Homo sapiens: one gene and its partner. The protein of the gene in region 1 purifies or fractionates together with the protein of each later gene. This does not show direct contact. Each region holds a gene or a part of one and is shown in the gene's direction. Other genes may lie near its edges. The genes, in order: FAM135B and STK26.

Evidence for each region.
Region 2: the proteins of FAM135B (region 1) and STK26 purify together in Homo sapiens (affinity purification with mass spectrometry; one large-scale study listed by BioGRID and IntAct). This does not show direct contact.

Annotation. Positions count from the first base shown.
Region 1 is NC_000008.11:138,494,892-138,498,809, reverse strand, and holds the start of FAM135B (protein FAM135B), read left to right. Parts: upstream 1-1,548; 5' UTR 1,549-2,139; intron 2,140-3,918.
Region 2 is NC_000023.11:132,068,302-132,072,119, forward strand, and holds part of STK26 (serine/threonine-protein kinase 26), read left to right. Parts: coding exon 1-22; intron 23-110; coding exon 111-268; intron 269-1,176; coding exon 1,177-1,362; intron 1,363-2,767; coding exon 2,768-2,916; intron 2,917-3,818. UniProt on the Homo sapiens protein: Serine/threonine-protein kinase that acts as a mediator of cell growth. Modulates apoptosis. In association with STK24 negatively regulates Golgi reorientation in polarized cell migration upon RHO activation.

The DNA of each region.
Region 1 (3,918 bases):
ATAATGAGTGCTTGCACTGACTTTCAAAAATAAGGTTGCATAAAAATGCAATGTCAATAGCAAAATAAATGCCATATGGTTATGAACACATTTAAGAGACAAATATTGTAAAAGAAAAGCACCCATTTTCTCTATTGAGAAATTCATATTTATTTGCCATTCACCAAACATTTACTGAGGGTATGCATTGCCCTGGGCTTGCTGGGTGCTGTGGGGAGGACAAGCAGGGTAGATAGCTCAGAGCCTCCATCTGCCCAGGCCCACTATGTCAACAGCCTCCTTAGGACACCTCTTTCTGCAGCCTTAATCCCCACCCTAGCCAGCACCACACACACTTCAACTAAGGTGATCTTCCCTTCATTCCCACCCAGCCTTTCTCCTGCTTAAACTGCTTCACTGCCCTCCTCCCCACCACCTTCCCCATTCCCTTCCCATCCTAAGGGTCACATTGTCAAATTCCAACCCCTTCACTTGGATCGCAAGGCCTTTGGTGTGCAGTGCCTGCCCTGTAAACCTCACCACTCGCCTGCCTCACCTCTCCTTGCCTGCTGCTGCTAGGTTCCTGCTGTTCTGTCCTGCCTCCAGGCCTCTGTACCCTGCTCCTCTTGTCCTGGAAAGAGCAGTCTTCTCTACCCTTCACCGCCCCACTCATTTGTTCTTATACCTTTTTTTCAGGTATCTTTCCCCAATTACTTGCCCCTGCCCCCAGCCTGACAGGGTTAGAGACTCCTCCTGCCAACTGCAATTGCCTGGTTCCATTCCCTGCTTCCTCCTGGGGTGTGAGTTAGTGCAGCCCAGTCTAATGGGGGACATAGTCATCCTCTAATGCCTGGTTCCATTCCCTGCCTCCTCCTGGGTGGAGTTAGTGCAGCCGAGTCTAGTGGACGGGTCACTGGGCTTCCGAGTCCCAGTCTTGGCTCCTTCTCTAAGGCTGTTTTGTCATCTGTCACAGGCATGCCACGAGAACTTGCCAGCACAGTGGTGGTGATAATTAGAGTTCCCAATGCCCCTTAAGAATGCTCAGTAGACGGGAGCTGGCTTAACCCTCCCCAATCTTCCTCTCCCTCCTCCGTGGACAGAATCTCACACGTCTGTGAACCCCCACGTTCAGCATGAAGTGAGGAGCCCATCGGATGACGGGCCGGCTGGCTGGTTGAAGGCCACTGCTGACTTCGCATTGGAGGTATGGGTTGCTCAGCGCTTTTACCCTTTCTCAGGCATCTACTTGTTGCCTGGGCTTCTCTTCCAAGTTCAACAGTCCCCTCCCAGCCAGTTCTCCGCCGCGCCCCGCCCCCGGATATCTGCAGGGACCCTTTTCCTGCCCGAGGCCTGGGGTCTTGGCTCGAGAGGGGAGCCCCGCCGCGGGGACTGAGCATGCTCGCGCCGGTCAGTCTGGGAGGGCCGCACGCGGGGCCGCAGCCTGCGCCCTGGGCACCCGGGCGGCCGAGCGGGCGGGGTTTGGCCGCCGGGCGGCCCGCCCCGGGCTCCCATCAGGGCCTCGCGGCGGAGAGGGACCGAGGTGGGAGCGCGTGAGCCGCGCCGCCAGCCAGTCGCGCAGCGTCTACCCACGCGGTGCGCAGCGGCTGCGGAGCGGAGCCAGCGGGAGCAGCAGGGCGGGCTCTCCCGGCCGCGAGGGCGCGCGGCGCGGCGCGGAGGGTCTGGCCGCGTCCCGGCGGAGGAAGGAGAGGAGTGAGGGCGCCAGAGGTGAGCGCAGCCCGGGAGGCGCCAGCCCAGCGGCGCGGGCGCAGCCGGTCGGTCCTTGCTTTCTTGCGGCGCTGGCGGCTGCGTTCCCCCGACCGCGCTGACAGCCTCGCGTCCTGGCGCCTGCTCGCTGGGGCTGCCCGGAGGCCGCGGCCGGGCAGCTGTTGCACGGAGAGGGGGGCAGTTGCGGGGTTCCATAACCATAGCAACCGCATCAGCACCGGCGGCGGCGGGCGAGGGCAGCATCCGCTCGCTCCTCCTCCAGGCAGCCTCGCCGCGGGGACCCAACACCAGCTCGCAGGTGCTGCGGACTCCCCAGTCCGCCCGCCGCCGCCGCCGCCGCAACTGTTGGCGGCCAGAGACGGCGAAAGAGGAGAGAGAGGGACCCAGGAGCGCGGCCCCCGGGGGAGAGAGAGGGGAGCCCTGCAGTGGAGACAGGTAGGTGAGAGCGCTTCGGGGTCGGCAGCTGCAAAACTCTCTCGTCGGTGGTAGTGACGCTTCTGCAAGCGTGGTTGCCAGTTGGATGGCTTTCTGTCACGGAACAGCGATTCCGCCGCAAAATGTGGTTTATCTCCCTCGATTTTCCCCAGTCTCTCTGCCCTCCAGGTTTGCTGCACATCTGGACAGGTCTTGAGGGGATAAGAAGGGCCAGGGCTGTGAAAGGAGCGGAGAGGCTGGGTTAATGAGGGGTTCCCCCCAGGAGTCCCAGATGGAGGCTGAGGGGGCGCATGCAGACCTTGGCCATTGGGGTCCTTGGAGCCAGGGAACCCGGGGGCCAGGCTCAGGAGAAGACCGCACTGGGGTGGAGGGGACAGTGGCAGCGATTCCCTGTGATCCAGGCGAATGCACAGACCCGTTCTTCCTGTGGCTTGGCTGGGGACAGGGGTGTGCGGGGACACTGCAGCTCAGCTGTGACATGGAAAGGGACCAGCTCTTGATCTGTAGAGCCAGCTTCAAGCCCAGTCACTGGAGGGGATGTTTAGACGAGGCAAGTAGTAACTGTTATTATTTTGGGACACAGGAGTATCATGTTATTGCCGTTGACTATTAGGGATAGGATGGGAATAGAAATAAAATTTTGAGCTAGCAGTCAAGACTATGCCCTCCCCTTCTCCCCACCTCATTTCTAGCTCCCCACCCCACTTTGCCAGCAAAACAAGAATCACATCGCTCATAGTGACAATCCTTGCTCCTTGGCCACTGGCAAACTATCTCGCTTTCAGACAGCTGGAGACACCGCTTCAGTTGTCCATTTGAACCAGGGGGCATTGTTTTCCATCAGGTTATGATGCTCTTGATGTTAAGTGATGTGTCAAAGCCGAGAGGCACCTGGGCTGTCCATACAGTGTGATGGACTGTTAACTACATCTGCAGGCTGGAGAGAGGGCCAGAGCTTGGGGAGTGATTACAAACTCAGATCAGCTGGGACCAGGGCCCCGGAAGAAGGAAGATAGCATGTGAATAATTAGGGTCTGAAAGTTCGTGCATGTAGGTAAGTAGGCCTCTGAATAATATCCAGGATAGGCAGCCATTGACTTTGAAAGGGCTCTTCCTTTATATCGTGGCCTCGGGGGACAGTCTAAGTCCCAGTTAAAAGGCTATGTTCTTTAATTGGGCTTTTAATTTATGGTGTGGTTATGTTACCCAAGGGGATGTGATTTGGCCAACCTCTCATCTGGAGATTTATGTCATAATATGGATGATGTTATCAGAGCTTAGACAGATGGTTAGGTGTAGAGGAAAGTGGACCAGATTGGAGGGTCAGAAAACATGGATTTGAACTCTGATTTCCTCATGCACCTGCTGTGTGACCTTGAGTTGTTCCACCTCACTGAGGCTTCTTTCTCTCATCTGGAGAATGGGGATACTAACTAACAAGTCTTGCAGTTTACCAGGCTCAATCACAATCCAATGGGATGTGGAGAGGATGTTTGGGAAGGGCTTTTTAAAACCTGATGTCTTGTGCAAGTAAAAGGGATTATTGTTTTCTAAAGAATCTCTCTTCCTCAGATTGGCAAATCATTAAACATCCATCAACTACGAAAAGAGAGTGGAAATATTAGTCAGTGACTCACAGTGGAAACACTGTAGTCTGGTCCAAGATTCACTCAGGGCAACATAAAGAGGGCTTCTCAGGGGAAAATGCTGCATGCCATCCACCTTGCCTACAAGTGCTGAAGGTCAAGTGCTTTGCCATCAAATGCAGCACTCGTCTAG
Region 2 (3,818 bases), on another chromosome or scaffold:
AAAATTCACCGAGACATAAAAGGTATACAAAAGTCTAATATGAACCTGAGAAAAATAGAAGCATTCTGAGCAAGCTGAGTTTTTTTTTGCTTTTCTTTTTTTCCTCCTAGCTGCCAATGTCTTGCTCTCAGAACAAGGAGATGTTAAACTTGCTGATTTTGGAGTTGCTGGTCAGCTGACAGATACACAGATTAAAAGAAATACCTTTGTGGGAACTCCATTTTGGATGGCTCCTGAAGTTATTCAACAGTCAGCTTATGACTCAAAAGTAAAGTATTACCTGTACAAACTGTTTTGGGCTTGTTAATAAATTATATATGGCACACTATCCTAGTTAATACACTGCCTTATTTTTCCTTGTTTCACAAGTGTTTCTTAAGCTAGAGTTATGTCATATTTTGCTGCTTAATCATAAATTCCCTCACAGCTAACTAATATTTGGACCCTATTCACTTCAATGGCTTTTCATCCCACGTGGAATAAAATCCTAAGTCCTTTCTGTGACATATAAAGCTCTACACAATCTGGCCATTATCTGCCTTTCCAGTCTTATCTCCTACCACTCTCTTCTAGATTATTCATCCACAGTGGCCTCATGGTTGTTCCTCAAACATAGCAAGTACACCCTGGCCTCAGGACCTTTGCATGCCCTTCCCTCTGTCTGAAAAAACCTTCTTCCCACAATCAGGTCTTTGCTTAAATATCACCTACGCAGGGAAGTCTTCCCTGGCCATCTTATGTAAATTTGCAACACCCTTCCCCCCATGATTCATTATTCTCTTACTATGCTTTGTTATTTTCTTCACAGAAGTTAGCACCGTCTGGCACCATATTATTTATTTATTTATTGTCTTTCTTATTAGAATGTAAACCCCTTAAGAGCAGGGATTTTTGTCTGGCTTATACACTACTGAAATCCTCCATTCCGAGAAGGGTACCTGGCACAAAGTATGGAATTCATTATGTTTTACATAAATGAATTCTACTAATAAAAATTTATTAACACCACATTTTCTTGAGAGACAAGTACTGTATAGCCATTAGGTTCCACAGACTATTTTGTGGTAGTATATTGGAATGGAGTTTCAAGGTGATATACATACATACACATATATATATATATATATATATATATATATATATATATATATTATTTTCTTTTTCCTTTTACGTTAGGCTGACATTTGGTCATTGGGAATTACTGCTATTGAACTAGCCAAGGGAGAGCCACCTAACTCCGATATGCATCCAATGAGAGTTCTGTTTCTTATTCCCAAAAACAATCCTCCAACTCTTGTTGGAGACTTTACTAAGTCTTTTAAGGAGTTTATTGATGCTTGCCTGAACAAAGATCCATCATTTGTGAGTATATATTGCTATTATTACTATTTGTTTTCTATTATTAGATCTACTTATAGCAAAGGCAGCTTTTCCTGCAGTAGGGAATACAGTGTATGTGAGAATTGTCTAAGATCCATCCAGGAACCTGGTTCGTCCTTCTGTATTGCTATTTCTATTGAGTTCTTAACCAGATTCTTCATTCTTTTTCTCCTTACCCTTCGTTTTTTTCTTGATCCTCAGCTTCCTCCTTATTCTATTCATTATTTCCTCTTTCAGGGGGAAATAAATTTGAGAAATAAAGTTAACTTTATATTATGTCATTATTAAAGTGTATGTATAAATACAATGATTTTTGTTCAACTGTTTTCATTTTTCATGAAAAGTTATATTTGGGTTTAACTATTTTTTTTTTTTGAGATGGAGCCTTGCTCTGTTGCCCAGGTTGGAGTGCAGTGGCATGATTTTGGCTCACTGCAACCTCCAGGTTCAAGCGATTCTCCTGCCTCAGCCTCCCAAGTAGCTGGGATTACAGGCACCCGCCACCATGCCTGGCTAATTTTTGTATTTTTAGTAGAGATGGGGTTTCACCATGTTGGCAAGGCTTGTCTCGAACTCCTGACCTCTAGTGATCTGCCCTCCTCAGCCTCCCAAAGTGCTGGGATTACAGGCATGAGCCACTGTGCCTGGCCAGGTTTAACTATTTTTATTTGGTGTTTAGAAACTTCAATGTGAAGTTGTATACTTTTCCTAGGCTAGTGAGCTCCATTCATTTACTTGGTGGATTCTATTACAGTTGTTTTACTGTTGTTGAAATAAAGCTGCCTTGTGACTTTTTGAGACGAGAAATACACAAGAGCAGTCCAAACTTGATATAACTATTTTTAAGTTGATGATAAACATTCTCATGTTAATAAAATGAAGGCGGAACATCCTCCACAGCACCTGGTGTTTGCATTTAGATGCAATAGACATTGATTTGTGATGGAGAAGGGATTATATGTGTAGATAATAACAAAATTACAGCCTTGCAAGTTTTCATCAGGTTTTTTCAAATTTACAGTAAATGTGATTAAAGTATTTTAGAACACTACTTTGAAATGTTTTTAAATGTTTACTTTCTAAATACTGTCATGTGTCTCTCTGCTTTTGAGAAGGCCCTGCCTGCCAGTTTGCTGGTGGGTAAGCCACCTGCTGCCCGTTGGGCTTTAACAAATTGGGACACCAAAGTAGTAGATTCAATGTGGTTGCCTTGAGCCACTTCAATAATAGAATTAGCTATTTTCCTACAGCATTTTAGTTGTTCTTATGTCTACAGACATACCTTTATACCTTTCAGCTTAATAATTCAAATGATTTTTTTTACCATTCCTTGTAATCATAAGAGTTCAACAATTGTCATATGCAGCCTTGATCTTTTTATCCTTAGCGTCCTACAGCAAAAGAACTTCTGAAACACAAATTCATTGTAAAAAATTCAAAGAAGACTTCTTATCTGACTGAACTGATAGATCGTTTTAAGAGATGGAAGGCAGAAGGACACAGTGATGATGAATCTGATTCCGAGGGCTCTGATTCGTATGTACAAATTATTTAATTTTTATGTAGGCAGCCTATTTAAATATTGTATATCTTTTAGCTATGCTCCAGTGTGCTTGTTCTAGCATAAAATATAAACCATATTTTGAAATTTCACCTTAGAAACTGTAAAAATCTTTTTCAATCACAGTCTGTGGAATACAATGGAGTTGGAAACATGTTTTTCTTGGAAGTGAATAGCTCTAGTTTTAAATGGTCTTGGTCTAACCCCTAGTGGATACTTGAGTATATTACAAAATTTTGGAACAGGATTCAATTAAAGGTGTTATATTAGTTTGCTCAAAGTAATAAGGAGCTGTGTTTTCTCATACTTTGATGGCAACCTGCAAAATCCCTCTAAAGAACTGACCTCCAGGCTTTTCCCACCTCTTGGCCATGTACCAAACCAAGATCAGACTGATACATTTAAATATTCATTTATGCATGATTTTTATTTCTTGAAAAAGTTGTAGGGTTTTATAACAGCAGCGTTTACATTAAAAATTCAGCCTCTAAGTCTGTCAATTAATTTAGACTAGGAAAGTCTGTATGCTATGCCAGAATTTAGTCCTCCACCAGCTGAACTGGCACAAAGGCAACACCAAATTTCTTTAGATACTACTCTGAGATTCTTCCATTTATGAGAAATTGTCCAATGTTGGAAAGGGATAAAAAATATCAGAATAATTTGTGCCCTATTCTAATGGGTGTTAGCCTTAGCTTCCCATAAGAGTCACTCATGGAACCTTAAAGCAATCACAAGCCACACCACTGGAGATCCTGATTCAATAGGTGGGGAGTAGTGAGGGACAGGTATTTATCTATGGTAGGAGGTCTCAATGAAGCACACACAGAGTTGAGAACCACTCCACTACTACTCTGTAGTAAAATGTAGTATTCGC